2 separate regions of the Homo sapiens genome follow, and region 2 is linked to region 1. Evidence: fine-mapped expression QTL. Tissue or cell type: tibial nerve. Region 1 holds a variant in brackets; the other region holds the start of a gene. All regions are shown on one strand. Distances are from middle to middle. Region 1 holds the start of MIR3182 (microRNA 3182). Region 2 holds the start of CDH13 (cadherin 13).

Region 1 (8,670 bases):
ACCTGGGCATCTTCCTGATCCCCTTGAGACAAAGTTACTTCCCTGGCCATGGCATGTTCCACATATCATCCTGCTGTAAAGAGTCATTTCCATGGCCGCCTCCCTGCTATACTTTGTGAATACCATCAAGGTGGGCATCAGCTCTTACATCTTTGAAACTCTGAGGTAAGAAAGGGTGACCCTAAGTATGGGAAGCCCCTGGGGGCTGGGGAAGAAGGGGGTTGAGTAGAGGGATTATGGAAACTTGGCTTCAAATAGAGGAATGAGAAGGGAGGGCAGAGGGTTTCTGTGATGTGTGCATGCTATGCAGACCCCACAGGCACTCATGCACACAGAGCTGTGATGGCATGTACACACCTATGCATAAATTCTCAACTCCAGGTACCCATTAGCAGCATGAGAAAGTACAAACAGATCAGCTGGGTCATTACACCTCAGCTCTACACGGTACCTTGTGCCTGTTACAAGATATCTAAAATATAGAAGACAAGAGAGAATAATGGATCCAGCTAGCTCTCTGCCTATTTGAGTGCAAATAGCTTATTCAGGATACAATCTTAAGAAGCACAAGTGAGGGAGAAAGAGAAGTGAGACAGAATATGTAAAAGAGTCAATACACAGGTGGCAATGGGCAGATTATCTCTGTGGACAACTGGTGTTCAAACTCACTGGGGTCATCTGGGAGACTCGGGAGAACATATCTCGAAGTTGTCCTATTCCAAGGGTCAAGAAGGGATGGTAATCTACCAACTCTTGCCACTCAAAGGCTGATGGCTGTTCCCTGGGCAGTAAGACTGAGCACACTCCCATGGTCAGAGGAAAGTCCAGGCAGGCAGCTGCAGGGATTAACAGGTTGAAAGCCTGTATGGGAGTGGTGGGTTCCTGGGGATCTGGGTGAGCCATCAACAGTCACTGCTCTATGATCCAACCCAAGCATCGAAGGGCGGATGCACGGACTACACTACAGAAGCAGCCATGGGGCAACGCAAAACTTCTCTCTAATTTTTTACCCCATCTTCTCACTGCTATCCTCCAGAACCCCAGTAAGTGAGTTATTGAACCGGGGACAGGAGAAGTAAACTGCCGACCTGATTTGGCAGACTCCACATTTATTAAATGTATTCCCTTCCCTTCCCTTTCCTCCCCTCTCCTCCCCTCCCCTCGCCTCCCCTCCCCTCCCCTTCCCTTTCCTTCCTCCCTTCCTTCCTTTTCCTTCCTTCTTTCCTTCCTTCCTTCCTTCCTTCCTTCCTTCCTTCCTTCCTTCTTCTCTTTCTCTCTTTCTTTCTTTCGACCGAATGTTGCTCTTGTTGCCCAAGCTGGAGTGCAGTGGCGCGATCTCGGCTCACTGCACCCTCTGCCTCCCGGTTTCAAGCGACTCTCCTGCTTCAGCCTCCTGAGTAGCTGGAATTACAGGCGCCCGCCACCACGGACTGCTAATTTTTGTATCTTTAGTAGAGACGGGTTTTACTATGTTGGCCAGGCTGGCATCGAACTCCTGAGCCCATGATCTGCCTGCCTCGGCCTTCCAGAGTGCTGGGATTACAAGCATGAGCCACCGCACCTGCCCTCATAAATTTTTTACTAAGCAAAACATTTTTAAACTAAGTGATAAGACAATTTTTATTTAAAACCAAGGATGTCTGAGCATGTGCCATTAGATGAGATCAGGCAATTCAGGGTGCTATGCCCACAGGAAGGCTAGCATTAGATATTAACAGTCTAGCTCAGTTAAGCATTCCAGTCACCTTTGGAAACGTTTCCTGGGCTCTTTAATTTGTTTCCAGAGTAGCAACCAATTATCATTATTGTACTGTTAAGAATGGGACAAAGACTGTGTACCATTAATACTGCTTCTAAACTACTTTAAAGAACTTAGTCTTTCTAGCCAAATATGCTTTGAAAATGTCACTGGCTTTAAATGTATTTGGTTTAAATTTCCCCAGGTTCTAACACACACTCTTCATTCATTCAGCCATCTTCTGAGCCTCTATTAATAACAATACCTCTTTGAAGAATGCATACATTACAAACTTTCTCAAGAAGCCTAGAATCGACAGAGGAGAGAGACTGTAATAAAAATATTGCTTTTCCTTGTGACAGTGGCATTAATAGAATGCTAAACAATCTGTGTGAGAAAATGAAGAAAGAGGGATTGAGTCATGCAAAGAAGACCAGAAAAAGTCCACAGAGGAGGGGCTGCTCACACCAGGTTTGGGGGGTAACAGAGAAATGAGCAGCAATTTTAGCTGGTGAAACAGACTATGTGTATTAGTTATCTAATGCTGAATAAAATTACCCCAAACTTAGTGCTTTAAAGCAACTAAAAACATTTATGATTGCACACAGTGTTTGTGGCTTGGAGATATGGAAGCTGCTCAGCTGTGTAGTTCAGTCAGGATGTTGGTGAGGCTACAGTTATCTAAAAGCTTGATGGGGGCTAGAAGGTCTACTTCCAAGGTGGCTCACACATACGGCTAAAGAATTGATGCTGGCTATTAGTAGGTGGCCTCAGTTCCTTGCCATGTGGATTTCTCCATGAAGCTACTTGAGCTTCCCTACAACACGGCATTTGGCTTTGCCTGTAGCAAGAAAGGACAAGAATAAACAAGGCTCAGAATTCACACAAAGTCATTTCTGCCATGTCCTATTTGGCTACACAAGTCATTCCTATTCGATGTGGGAGGGGACCACGCAGGAGCATGGGTACCATGAGGTGAGAATCACTGGGAGCCCTCCTGGGGGCTGGCTACCATAATATGCAAAAGTCAGAAGTGCATTATCTTTGAGGGAAGAGAAAATGCTGATGCCATTGGAACGAGGGTGAGTTAGGAACGTAGTGGTACAATATAAAGCCAGAAAGCATGGGTCAGACTGTAGTTTGGATCAAGGAGGTTACATAAAGGAAGGCACTGCATCTGTCAGTCTCTCCTCCCTTTCATCTGTTGGGATTTGAGTGCAGGAGTCAGGAGCATTCATAGCAGAACTGGATTCCCACCAATAAGTCCCTTTCCCAGGAACTGCCCCATTCCCCAACCCCCAGAGAGATCAGTGGCTCCAAATCTTTGAGAGGATACAGAGGAGCTTGTCTATACTCTTCACTCTGACCAGCCTTTTCCTTCAGGCCTTAATGAAGACAGCATCTTCTTTCCTCCCCTTGGCCTTTTTATTCCTGCATGGCCTGATGGTCTCCCTTGGACTGGAACAACTTCAAATCCTGTTTGCCATGAGTGGAACAGCAAACCATTCTGACAGCCTCTTTGGTCTTACACTGACCTGGGTGTGAATTCCACTTCTACCCATTCCCTGAATGTGTGAACTTGGAAAGTAAATACTCCCTGTGACTCTCAGCTTCTCCCGGGGTAAGGTGGGAATACCACCACCACGTTATGGAATGTTGAAGGAAGGAACATGCTGATGCGTTTGCAATGTTGGCAATGGAGGCTGCTTTTAATAATCACATCATATCTGCAGCTCACAATCTGCTTCCTGGATCTCTTTAAACTGGGTTAGGCATTTTGGGAGGCCAAGGCAGGTGGATCACCTGAGGTCAGGAGTTCAAGACCAGCCTAACCAACATGGAGAAACACCGTCTCTACTAAAAATAAAAAATTAGCCGGGCGTGGAGGCGCATGCCTGTAATCCCAGCTACTCCGGAGGCTGAGGCAGGAGAATCGCTTGAACCTGGGAGGTGGAGATTGTGGCGAGCCGAGATTCCACCATTGCACTCCAGCCTGGGCAACAAGAGCAAAAACTCCTTCTCAAAAAAAAAAAAAAAAAAAAAAAAAAAAGGATTAATCACAAACCTCATCAGCTTTACAAGAACTGTGCTCCTTTGGCAGAGTTTACTAAATGTGTTCCCTTTGGTGCTCACATGTAGGCTGTTTCCCATGAATTCATTATCAGGCTGGCTGGGAGGGTCCTGGGGGAGGAATCTGCATGGATTTCCACTGGCCTTTCAAGATCAAGAGCAAAGCACTTCTGAGTCCTAGTGTTGTCCAGCGTACACTAAGGTGAGGATAGATTGAATTATCCTTCGTTGTAGGCTAACGCCCGCTAGGCATTATGACAGTTAGAACTGAGAAACAATTCTTGTTTCTTCTGGGTACAATGGGAGGGGAAGCCTGGGGATCTGGAGGCTAGATTTTAACTTAATGTGGAAATAAGAGCACCAAATTCA[A/C]GTCCAAATCTAGAATTTGAGGATGGGTAGGATCACATTTCCTATGCACATCCTTTGTATGAGAGTGACAGGCAAAGACAGAGGTGGTGCCACAGCTGGCTGACTATGATGAGGCATCAATGCTCTCAGACCCCTCCCATCCTCTCTTTTCACTCCTCTTAACCATTTTTACAGAGAAAGGAGATTTAAAGCAGGAAATTTTGATGCTTTATTTGAGGCAGACTTTAAAAAATAATTACGTTGACATGTCACCATGAGACTTACCTGGCAGGACACTAATTACTTGCTCGTATGAATATATTTTCTACTTTAAAAAACACAACTATAAACAAATGTTATTTTTTAAAAAAATTCCTTGAAGCCACTACTCTTGTCACCAAGCAGACACCAGAAAATCTCATTATCTGCCCTAACACCAGTTGCTTACAGGGCCTGAGCCACTCTGTCTGGATGTCTAGTGTTGAGGATGAGGCTGTTATCTCCCGCTACCTGCCATGACCCCATATCAGCCCCACTGGCACTGAGAATGGGCACAGCACCCGGAGTGGGTCCCATCTTGCTAGAATCCCAAAACGTGGAGTCCAGGTCATAAAGATCTGGCCTGCTTTCCACCCTCACAGCAGAAGAAGTTGTCAGCAAAGCCTCAGATGCCTCCCATTGCCCGTCCCAGTGGTAGCGACACTGGACAGGCTGAGTGTCTTCTGGTGGCATTAACCCTTTGTGCTCTCTTTCATAGGAAAGTTGCTGTGTTCTGAGCTGAAGAAATACCTCCAAAATGCTTCATGCACAGCAGATCTTCAGAAGAGAAGTAAGGGTGAGGTTGGAACCTCTGTCTTTCCAGAATCAGGCTTCTTTGTGGAGGGGCTGGAGGTTGTGAACACTCTTCTCTAGTGCCCTGTGCTTCACCAAGGGTGCAGCAACCTGAGGATTAAAATCCAGCCTGTTCCACTCACCAAGCCTTACCCTTGGCATGGGCTATGTCCATTCAGAGGAACGGGCATCTTTTATTTCCTTTTTTTAAATTTTACCTTAACTTCTGGGATACATATGCAGACTGTGCAGGTTTGTTACATAGGTATACATGTGCCATGGTGGTTTGCTGCACCCATCAACCCATATTTTAGGTTTTAAGCCCCACATGCATTGGGCATCTGTCCTAATGCTGTCCCTTCCCTTGCCCCCCACCCCCCAACTAAAACACCAAAAGCAATTGCAACAAAAGCCAAAATTGACTATGGGGATCTAATTAAACTAAAGAGCTTCTGCACAGCAAAAGAAACTATCATCAGAATGAACAGGCAACCTATAGAATGGGAGAAAATTTTTGCAATCTACCCATCTGGCAAAGGTCTTATATCTAGAATTTACAAGGAACTTAAACAAATTTACAAGAAAAAAAACAAACAACCCCATTAAAAAGCAGGCGAAGGATATGAACAGAAACTTCTCAAGACACTTCTGTGGCCAAAAAACATTTGGAAAAAAGCTCATCGTCACTGGTCAAGCATCTTTTCCTATTGCACAAAAGTGGCTTGTGGGCTAGGAGCCTCCCTGCCCCTTCCCTTTTCCTCCACTCCACCCCAGGAAAAGGAATGGAGGTTTCTGATTGCTGAGTGGCATCTCCCTAGCTATGTCTCCTTTCCTCCTTTCCCTCTCCTGTTTCTCTTCCCCTTCCGGCCTCCTTCTCACTGCCCCTCCTCCTGGGCAGAGGCATCCTGAGATGGGCTCCACCCAGGTAGATGTGGCGTGTTGTTATCCCACCCCATCCGAATCTCTCTAATTTAGGTAAAAGTATTAGCAAATTTATTTGGGTACAAACTCAAGGCTTTCCTAATCAGCTTCATAGGTAATGAAACCTACGGTTTGGTCTCCAGTTGTCCTGTATTTCTTAGGAGTTCTAATTTGGGAGGGGAAAAAAGGGTACAATTCACCACTTCTTAGTTTCTCAACACTACTTGAATCTACGTGAGCGATTCAAGGCCTCACTTTATACCCCTTGCTTACCTGATGATGTGAACATTCTTACCAATGTGTATTGAGCACCTACAAGGTACAGATCTAGGAGGCAAGGAGCCCCTCTCTCTGTGTAGCCTTTGTAAGGCTGGATTTATGTAACTGAAGCATAACCAACGAGCTCCGCTGTGCCCTTGTGAGGGCCAATGGAAGGCCACCCCCTGAGAGGAACACTTTCATGCACTTTTACCAACTCAGGCAGGCTGGTTGGGTGGGATGGCAGCCACCCAGCCTTCTAGGGAGACCCCACTGTCGATGGAGATGCCTGAGAAAGATCTGGTCAAGTGGACTGTGCCTCTGTTAGAACACTCCTGTGTCATCTCAAGTCTCACCATTATTTTATTATTGGTAACACCAGCTACTATTGGTCAAGAGCTCTTCATGGCCAATGCTAACGGCCATGAAGCTAATGTATTTCATGCCCAAGAGTTAATGTACTTCACCTGTCATCTCTTTCAAGCCCCCAAAACTAATGTATTTCACACATCGTCTCTTTCAAGGTCAAAAGCTACTGTATTTAACACGTCATCTCTTTCAAGCCCACAAACCATATAAAAAAGGTTACATCCATTTCCTATTGCTGCTGTAACAAACTGCCATGTCCTTAGTGACTTAACCATGTGACTTTATTCTCTTACACTTCAGGACAGGAGTCCAAAGTGGGTCTCAGTGGGCTAAAATCAAGGTGTGGGCAGAGCTGCAATCCTTCTGAATTTCTCTCCTTGCCTTTTTTTTTCCTTTTTTGTTTTAGATGCCAGAAGCTCTGTCCACAGCCCTTGCATGGTGGGCCCTTGCTCCATCTTCAAAGCCAGCACTAGAGCATCTTTAAATCTCCAACCCAGCCATTCCCACCTCCCCCTTATTAAGACCCTGTGATTATATCAGGCCCATCTGGATAATTCAGAATAATCTTCCAATCTCAATATATTTGACTTAATCACTTCTACAAAGTCCCATTTGCCCTGTAAGGTAACATATTTACAAGTTCTGGGAATTAGGATGAGGACTTCTTTGAAGGGGAGGAGCCATTATTCTGTCTTCCACACAGGCCGTGCTATGAGTTCCATTTTACAGCCAAAGAAACCTAGGCTCAGGTAGGTGAGGTGACTTGCCCAAGGCCACACAAGTAATAAGATGCAGAGCTCAGATTCACAGATTCACATTTGTGAATTCCTAAGCCCAAGCTCTGAGCCACTGTACCACATGGGCTTTCTAATGGAAGAGCTGAGGGAAACTCAATCAAGCTCCCCAAATATGTGAAAAGTCCAGGAGCAATGAATACAGAAATCCCTGAAATGAGTCTGATAAAAGATAAAGTTGTCCTTGAGACATCTGTCAGATTTTTTCCATCAATATGTCCCGTGCTTTTCTTTAATAGCCCAAGGGAGTGGATAGAGCAGCGGCTATGAGGTCAAATCCAATGCCCTGGCTCTCCAGTGGGTGACTCAGGAAAGGCAGGTCAGCCCTTGGGAACTCCATAACCCTCCTAGTAGAATGGATGTGGCAATTTCAGCCTTACAGAGCTCCTGTGAGTGTTATGGACCTAATGTAATGCCTGGATGAAAAAACGCCGTAATTGTTTACATGGTGGCTGTCCAATGCTGAGCACAACATAAACTGTCTCACACCTATTAGATATTCTAACATGCAGAGGAAATAAGAATGGAGAATCTCTTGACTCTTGCTTATTCCAGAATGCTAGAGCCCAAGGAGACAGAAAACCTGAATTTAGGACTCTGAGAGTCTTTCATGGAGAAAAATCAGCCCACACAACAATTTAGAAGACACGGGAGAGAAAATACCTAAAAGAATTTAATTTTGGTTCCCAGTTTTAAGGCCCATAAGCAGAAATGCCATTCACTGAATTTCAATGGTCATTTCTATAGCTGTTCTTCACAAAGGTAGAAATAAATTCATTTCCCATGGCTGTCTTAGAAACATATAACCACAAAATGTCTATTAAGTTGCCTGTTGGAATTTGTGGAAGCAAAGATAAACAGCTGGTCAGTGTGTCTGTGATGATCACGTTTAGCCAGGAAAGCCATTGCTATGTCTCTGTTACTTAAAGAAATAAGAATGCTTATTATTTCAAGTGGGAATGTTTTGACAAGACTTACCTTAATACACCTTTGAAAACATTTGGAATGCTTCCCCTGCAATCTTAAAAACATTAACGGAGGCCATGATTCCTGGCACAACTCCCTCTGTTTGGTCAACAAATAAACTGGCTCATATAGAAACCAGTCTCTAGGCCGGTTGTGGTGGCTTATGCCTGCAATCCCAATACTTTGGGAGGCCGAGGCGGGTGGATCGCCTGAGGTCAGGAGTTTGAGACCAGCCTGGCCAACATGGTGAAACCCCGTCTCCACAAAAATAAAACAAAAATTAGCCGGGCAAGATGGTGGGTGCCTTTCCTGTAATCCCAGCTACTCAGGAGGCTGAGGTGCGAGAATTGCTTGAATCCAGGAGTCTGAGGTTGT
Region 2 (8,670 bases), 880 kb after region 1:
TGTGGCAATTAATGTGGAATAAGGAGAATAGTTTTGTTTTGATGGAGTTGCTGCATTGAAGTTCTTTAAAATGAGCTGTAGATTCAGAATTTTGTAATGCTGTGGATGGAGCCCTCTTCTGGAGAAATTTTTCAACAGGTATTACAAGATCAAAATGCAGAGATGTACACACTCACTCAGACGCGCACACAGAAACACTGTTGGCTACGTAGATGATATGACTGTCATTCAGGTGTAAATTAAATCCATAGTTTGTCCTTTTCCTACATTCCACTAAATATAAATTAACTAGACTCCCCAAGCAATTGTATTTTTGGAAGGAAATAAGGATGTTTTCAAGAACCTAGCTACACTTTAACCTAAACATTGAACTTCAGATTGAGGCTCAGTTTACACATCCAAGTGCTGATGCTTTTAGATAATGCAGTTATTGAGTATGTTGGTTTGTTGGGCAATTTCACTATAACACATAGAGGATACTTCTGGAAGTAAACAGATTTTACTTAACGGAAAACCCAAGGGCTAAAGATAGAAAAGGGGAGAAGGGAGGGAGGCAGAGTAGGAGCGATCAGCTAAGATGACTGTTGGGGCTTTTAGTATAGACTGTGGAATTACACAAATTCCAGATTACATACTCAGCTTTGCAGTTTATTAAACCTGTTTTGGGACTTGCTAAAAAAAAATATTCAGACAGGTGAACTCTATCACTGACTCCTTTCACTACATATTCCATTTCCCTAGTGCTCTGGAAATCTTACAGGCTGTCATGTATTGACCCTAGGGGGGGAGGGGGCAGCACCCTCTTCAACCCTGTGTCCTTTTCCTCATCCAAAAAGTTCTGCAAATAAACACTGCTCTTAAAACATAACACACAAATTTGCAGGAGCACTATAAGACACTGATTCTCATTGAAAATCCTGAAAATCAAGACTCTGACCCCTAGAGAGAACTCCCCACTTTATAGCGAAATCTCAGAATTCCATGGAACATTTTCAGTCACTCCCAAGCGACTGTCCTCCAAGCCTGAACCCCTCCCTAAATTCCTAATTCTTGGGGGATTACTCACTCATTGTTAGAACTTTTGGTTAGTTGTAAGTGCTACCCAAATAGGGAGGGGAATCACATTTACCATGGAATTTCTTGCTCATTTCTTTCTTGATTTGTTTCACAGTCATTACTTATCATAGGCAAATTCCAGAAGCCACTTCTGGGACAGACTTTCCCAAAACACCCCAGGGGATAGGAGAGGTGACTGTTCAACGGTGCCAGCTTCCAGTCATTGTTGCTTAGAATTCCTCACCTCCTACCAAAATGCCTAAAACAACAACCAAGCCAATAAGCTTACAGAGATTGATGGCTTCCAAAGCCAGACCCGATGCTTTACAACTGTGGTGGAAAAAAACATACAGGCTTGCCTGAACACCACCAGGGCCGAGTGACTAATTTGTTTTATTACATTGTTTTTCCCTTCTGTTTTCTCTCTGCCTCAGGAAAGTTGTGTTTTTGCTCGTCGACTCAAGGCCTCGAAGACTTTCCCCACTTTTTTCTATGGCACACAGAGTTCTGCACGTGAACTTCTTGCTGGTTAACTGGATTGCATCAAAATGATTTCTCTGTGAGGTACTATTGCTACCAGGATATCAATTACTATCCTAATGTGGACATTTGCTCTGATATGCATAACAATTGAAAATAGAAATAAGCCTCTCAGGGCAATCATTTCAATTCACAGCAAAATCTCTGCTTCCTTCATCTAAATAAATAGAGTGAGCCTTCAGAACCCACCTGTGCCAGCCTGGCCCTGGGTGAGGAGACACACCAGTTCATTTGCAAAAAGAACCGTGCGCAGAGCCCTTAGTGCATAAAAATCGATCCTGGGGCCCTGTCACGTGGTCTGTCTTGCTTTAAAGGAGGCATAACTTTGGGCAAGCCCTGGAATATGAACTGAGGTTGAAACCTGCCAAGAAAGAAAGAGGACTGTGAAGTCCTGGACAAGGCAATGGTAAGTGCTCTCAGACACCGACAGCTCCCAGACTGGCATGCATTGCATAGGACATCCTGTTGAATGCAATCCTATCCACTCAGCAGTCCTAGGAAGGCAGCAGATTATTTTACAATGGAGAACTTGGAAGCTCAAAGAGGTTAAACAACTTGCCCGGGTTGGTACCACTAGCAGATGGCAGGAAGGATCTGTCTGAATCCTTTCTGTCTGAGGCATGCTCCAAACCGCCTTGCTAAATTGGGGTATATGTACACACATACAGCCTTGGGGTCTCTAGGGTACAGGACATCTGGAAAACTGGTTCACAGCCAGGCTTGGGATCCATGGCAAGACTCAAGGCTGTAGGGACCCCAAGATAATCAACCAGAAAAGCCTGGTAGAAAAGGAGCTATAACTGGGCAGTCCTTAATCGGGACTGTATATCCAAGAAAGAAGTCAGGAGCTTGGGAGCGGGCTCAGCAGCCGGGCACTTGAATCTCCCCTGGTACTATCACCCATCACTGCATTTCTGAGATGTTAGCCCATTTCCAAAGTCTAAACCCAACATTGCTCTAACAGTGGTCTCCCTTAGAAGTCTGCACCAGTCTCCCCATCCCAGACAGTCCCTACCTGGGAACCCAACTCCCTTCCCCTGCCTTTCACCCGCAAACTCTCACCTGAGCCTCTACCCCGGCCAGGAACTCAACACTCATTCCTAGCACCCTGAGGCACTCCCTGTCTCTTTCCCTCCTTACTCTGCCCGGCCCTGCCCTGCCCTGGCTCTTATCCACCCACTTGCAGGCTGCCAGCTCACTCCAAGTCCCAACGCCTGCCAGAGAGGCGATGGGGGACTGGATCGGGGTGCTCTCCGAAACCACAGGCCCCTGAGCAGCGCAGGGCGTGCCCCCCGCAGCGGCCAGCACCCCAGGCCTGGCCTCGGAGCGCTGCTTTCCTGCACTCAAACTTCCCGAAATCTCTGAGGTGCAGAGGTGACTGCAGGCGGACCGCATCTCCCTCGCCCCCTCTCCTGGTTGGCGTGCCCTTCCCTCGCGCCGTGGCGCTCTGAGGGTTAACAAGCAGCTGCAGCCCGGGTGGGCAAGGCTTGAACTTTTCTCTGCGCTCCGCTCCCGCTCAGGGAAGGCAGCAGAGGCGGCAGCCCGGGATCTGGCCGGAGCTCCAGCTGGCTGGACAATAGGGGTGCGGGGGGCTGGGGCCTGCGCCCTGGCGGGGGACACGCTCCGGCCCTTTCGGGCCCGGGGTCTGGGAGCAAAAGGACCCCGATGCGGGTGCGGCCGGCGCCGGCGCCTTTGAGCGACAGCAGCAGCCGGGCTGAGGCTCTCTGCTGCCCCGAGGCGCCTTCCAGCGGGCAGCCGGGCTGTACCAGGGGGCCCGGGCGCCCTGGGAAGTCGGTGGTGCCTGCTCGGCCTCTCCAGCCCCGCATCCCGCAATCCGGACCCGAGCAGCGCTTCGGCCGCTGGGCGTTGGGCTGGGGAAAACCGCGGCTCGTTGGAGTCGCCTCTAACTGAGTCTTTCTCCAATGCACCGAGCCTCCGGAGGAGGGAACCAAAGTTACCCCACTTGATGTGGGCGAGAATGTCGCCCCTGCTAGCAAAAAAGGACTGGGAGCTCTCTCCTCCTCCCGTTAACGAACGTACACACACACACACACACACACACACACACACACACACACACACGCACGCCAGAGTGGGAGCCTGTGTGTGGGGGGTGCCTAGGATCTCTGGGCTCGGAATGACCTCCCTACCGAGCCCCGATCTGTCTTCGCCGCCGCGACCGGAGGCCCCGACCCCCCGAAAGCCCCCTCACCCTGCCCGTGCCGGGCGATCCGAATGCAGAAACGGGGCGCAGAGCGCGCCCGGCAGCCCCTCTTCCCTACCTGGGACAGGAGAACGCACAGAACGAGCGGAGTTCTCGGCTGCATTTTGTCCGACTAGAAGCGCCCGGCGGCGTTTTCATTCATGCACGCGGCTGCACTGAGCATATTTTCCGTGGGAGCCAGGCTTTGAGGAGAGGCTCTGCCTCGCCAGCCAGCCAACTTCCCAAATAGATCAGCAGCAGCATCACGAAAGCATTGGGTAGAGGCTGATGACCAGGACCAATGGCTTTACAAGACGGATTCCTTCCTAACGCTCCCTCGTTTTGCATGGCAGATACGGGGTGAGCACCTCGCGAGGAGCGAGCCCCGCGGAGGTGGCATCCCATTTGCTTCTTTGGACTGTTGGGGCTCAGCCTCACAAATCACGCTGGGCAATGCCAGCTGATTCCACTTTTCCAGAGAATGGAATTGCACGGGGGACTGGCGGCCACTTCCAGCCTAGTGCAAAAAGATTCTCTTTATTAAAATGTTAATAAGATCCACTCTATTTCCAATAAATCAGATAAAATGGCCCCAGCAGTTCCAGCCCTTTCTACGCCTGGCAAGGCTTGGCAGTGGATTTTTTTTTTCTTTTTTCCTTTTTTCCCCCCACTGTGGCCCAAGTCATGATGGTGTTTGGTGCTTCCCTGCCATCTCACAAATCACAAAGATGACAGATCAATTCGAGCTTGCAGAAAAAATTCCATTAAGGGGCAATAGATTTTATTAACTGCTCAGGTGAGAGTCTGACTAGCCACCTACTCCTCAAATGTGCATCTGGCACCAAAGCTGGGATCTGGATCGGAAGGAACTTCTTTTTGTATATGGATGTTACCTTTCAGAAGCTCTGAACTACCTCCAGGTACTCAGAACAGCAGTAGTCACTGCTTAAGGGATTTTATAAATGGGGGGCTTTGGGACTGAGGGTAAGAGGGACATCTAGGTCTGCCTTCCCTAATAGGAATCTAAGAAAATGCAGGGAAGACCTTACTGTATCATTTCCATGCAGCCTTCCCTTAGAAAGAATTTAAGGTGTTTTACAATAAAGGACATTTGTGCAATAGAATTTATGAACCAAAATAGAAAATCTGGGCCAGAAGGAAAAGTTCAGCAAACTGAAATGACAAGCCCAAATTCTAATGTATTTGCTCTGATTTGGATAAGAGCTTCCTGATAGCCAAAGCAATAAAAGAAACATAAGTTACATAGTTTTGTTGTAGAAACATGCATACAATGTCTTTCAGCATTATTTTCCATGGGCTAAATACCGGAATAAATGCATTATGTAACACGTAACATAGCAGGACACTGAGCAATGGACCATGCCAAGATCCAGTGGATGGGGATGTATTTCTAGCATCTGGCACAGGGCCTGGAACATGGAGACAGCAATTAGTGTGTGTTAAAGAAATAGATGGCTAGACTCAATCAAGATGCAGCAGAAGGCAGGGAGGGGCAAGGAGTCTGGAGCCACATTGTCTAGGCACAGCCCCCGGATCTGCCACTTACTTGTAAATTACTCAAACTCTCTGCCTCCATTTGTTCACAGATAAAATGAAAACACAAATTCTACTGAACTCACAAGGTTGTGGTGAGGATTAAGTGATGACATAACCACTGAATAAATATAAAGTGATGTGCCTTTTAAGATTCCTTCATTGGCTGCTGTTTGGTCAGAAGGTCACCTCCTGTGGTCCCAAGGTCATTGATAAAGATGCAGTGATGTCTGAAGCTTGGCTGCTGTAGCCAGCACTGGCCCAACAGATGGCAATGTTGGCAAAACAACCCCCAGATGAAACTGGGAAAGGTGAATCTTGCTGCTTCACCCACTCATTTCCTTGCCTAAATAGGGTCATCTGTCCCTGAGCCTCTGATCAATACGGTCCGACAGATGACGTCACAGATCATGACACTTTGGAATCCATGTGTGTGGAGATCTAGCCTCACGTTTCCCACAGGTGGGAGTAAACCAGAGAACTTTGGAGTCAAACAGGCTTCAAATCAAGGCATCCTGAAATATCCGGACTTTTCTCCACTCCAGGGAAGGTGCCATCTTGTAATTCAGGGCCAGCTAAACTGAGTCCATGGCTTAGCAACACAAAGATAGGGAAAGAGAGCAGAGGACAGCTTGGGAGGTGATAAACCACAGTGAGGGACTAGACTGCAGAAGATGAGGATCTAGCTAGGTTTCCATCTGCAGCAGCTCAGTTAAGGGAAGCAGTCCCTCAGAAGAGGGAGTTTTCAAGGCTGTGTTCTAAGGACAGTTCGGTGCTGTCAGTTTTACAGTTCTGCTGGCCTTCTGTGGTCTCCCCATTCCCTTGTCCTTAGTGCTGATGACCAAATATTTCCAATTTTTCCCCTTTTGGGATCATGGTGGGATTGCATTTACTGGCCCCCTTGTTGCTGGGGTGGGGCAGTGTGTGTACATCTAGCCAATGAGCCATGTGCAAAAGTGCCATGTCCCTTCAAGCCTGGAGCATTTAATTGCCAGTGTCAGGCAGATTGGTTTCCCTGGACGTGCTTTTTGCCCCAGTATTTCCCCAAGGAGGGGAAAAATCTTGGGTGAGACAGCTTGGTTTGGCCAAGGGCAATTCTCTGGTTTGTCCTCAAATTCATCAACTATATATAAAAGGAGGCCATTGGCAGTACGACCAGTAATGAGAGTCTGTGATGCCCAGGCCATAGAAGACCTCATGAGTCTGATGCTACCAATTAAGATGGATGTCGTTTGGTGAAAATCCTGCTGACTCTGTCCCCTGCAAAGTCCTGCTCAGGCATTTGCAAAGGTCCCAGGCTTTTTTCCTGGGCTGTTCTGCTGGCAGGCAGAGTGGCTCCAGTAAACCTTGCCTGATTCCAGGTGGGTGTGCCCAAAGGGCCAGTCTTCACTCCTTCCTCACCTCAATCCCCACAGATTGGCTTTTAAGGAATGAGAGGAGTTGTCTTCTGGAGTCTCCCTAGGCATTGAGGCTCACTTCTGTAATCCCACGAGGTTCAAAACATGCCAAGCCTACTAAGGTGGAAAAAGATTTGTCAGAAAGATTAGACCTGAACTGAGATCTTCAGATTCCACATATATGAGGCAAGTCAGTTTGGTACCCTAAGACTCAGTATGTCATCAATAAAATGCGAATGATAACATGATAACACTCCCAGGACTGTTGTAAATATTGATGTTTCTCTTCCCCTCTATCATCTATTCCTCTCGACTTTCAGAGAACGTGCACTTCAACAAAGAACAAGAGATCATATTTTGTCCAACAAAGACAGAAGAAAAATTATTTCATTCCAATGATAAAAGGCTTCTGAAGAAGAAATCCATTCTTCGTTTTGCTTTGCTTTTTATTCAGTTCCCTAATAAGGGTTTTTTGGCTGATTAATTGATTGATGTGGCAAATAAATACTAAAGTTGAGCCCTACGTATCCCCACTCCACCGCCTACCCCGTATCATCCCCCGACCAAGCCCCAGCTGCTGTAGCATCTGTGGGCTCCTCAAGAAGCTGTGTCTGCCTTTAGACACATTCGAGGTTCACACCCCTTTTCCAGACGCATCAGCCTAGCTTTGGCACGGAGGGAATAATCCAACAGCCAGTAGCTGCCTCCTGTGGGTGCCAAGGGTTGAGTTTGTTTCCTGTCCTTGGCTGATGTTGATGAAGGCATTCCACAGTGGGTGGATGTGGCTGTGTGAGTGCGTGCATGTTCCTGTGTGTATGCATATAAGCACATGGGTGTGTGTGTGCTGGGGGGAGGGAGTGACTGGCATATAGTCCGGCAGAGATAATGTATTCAAATTTTGTTATGCTTTCAATGTGCTGCTATGATGAGGCATTTGTATAGAGCGGGATTAATCCAGCTAGGAGCCCTTATGCAACAACCCAGTGATTAGGCGTGTCTGGGGACCTGGATAACAGAGACCCACTTGGACAGCATGCAGGGAAGCCTGTATCACACAGCACTGCAACATACCTTCATGCTAATGTCTCACTCCCTACAATGGGAACACCTGCTAAAAACACCCAAGATTAGGACAATGCACCGTCCTACAACAAGTCTCCCTGGCTACCAGAATGCTGACCAAAAGTAGCATTCCTGATCACTCTTAAGCCACAAACACTGCTTCGTGTTTCTTCCTGGCCCCCTATGTTACTTGACCTTCTGCTACGCATTGTTGCTTGCGTTGTCATCTCAATCCTTCACTCCAACCTGCATCTGTGCCCTTTGCCCCTTGGCCTTGGGTTTAGCCATGCAACTTCTGTGACAAATGAAATGAAGCAGAAGGGATGGGGTACCAGTTATAAGCTCAGGTCCCAAGAGACCCTCTGTGTTTTAGCTTACTCTCGCAAAAGCTCCTACTGATGCCTTGAAAAGAGCATTTGTGGGCTATCCCGCCGGTCCTAGGAGGAAATATGAGCCCCTCATGGGCCCACAGATGCTTGCCCAGCCAAATTTGCCCAGCTCAGCTGATCAGCAGGTATGTGACCTGAAAATAAACAATTGCTTTATATTTTGAGGTAATTTGTTTTGTAGCAATAATTAATGAGTGATTACATCTGTTGGCTTGTTGTCTGTCTCTTCCTCTGGAATGTAAGCTCATTTCTGTATTTTTACTGCTGCGTGCTCAGAACAGGGTCTGGAGCACGGCAGGTGCTTAGAAGACTTGGTTTGAGCGGGTGAATTAATTGGCTTTTGTGTTGAAAAATGTGTGATGCTGAGAGGCCCATCACATGTAGCTCCCTACGATGCAAGGTCTTCTCACAATAGTCCAGACCAGGACTAGACACAGTGAAGAACATGTGTGAGCCTGTGGGTGTCTGA

What was found.
Region 2: it holds the start of CDH13, and the variant in region 1 is fine-mapped to the expression of CDH13 in tibial nerve (GTEx, PIP 0.98).

The regions. Positions count from the first base shown.
Region 1 is chr16:83,500,650-83,509,319 of GRCh38, reverse strand. All of the region lies in intron 7 of CDH13 (cadherin 13), which reads right to left. It overlaps MIR3182 (microRNA 3182), which reads right to left and starts at 974; the gene lies at 912-974. The variant A/C (reference allele first, on the strand shown) is at 4,178.
Region 2 is chr16:82,622,346-82,631,015 of GRCh38, reverse strand. CDH13 (cadherin 13) reads right to left here and starts at 4,047. Exons shown (of 14, transcript NM_001257.5): 1 at 3,879-4,047. The coding sequence starts at 3,923. RefSeq lists an enhancer at 763-1,962.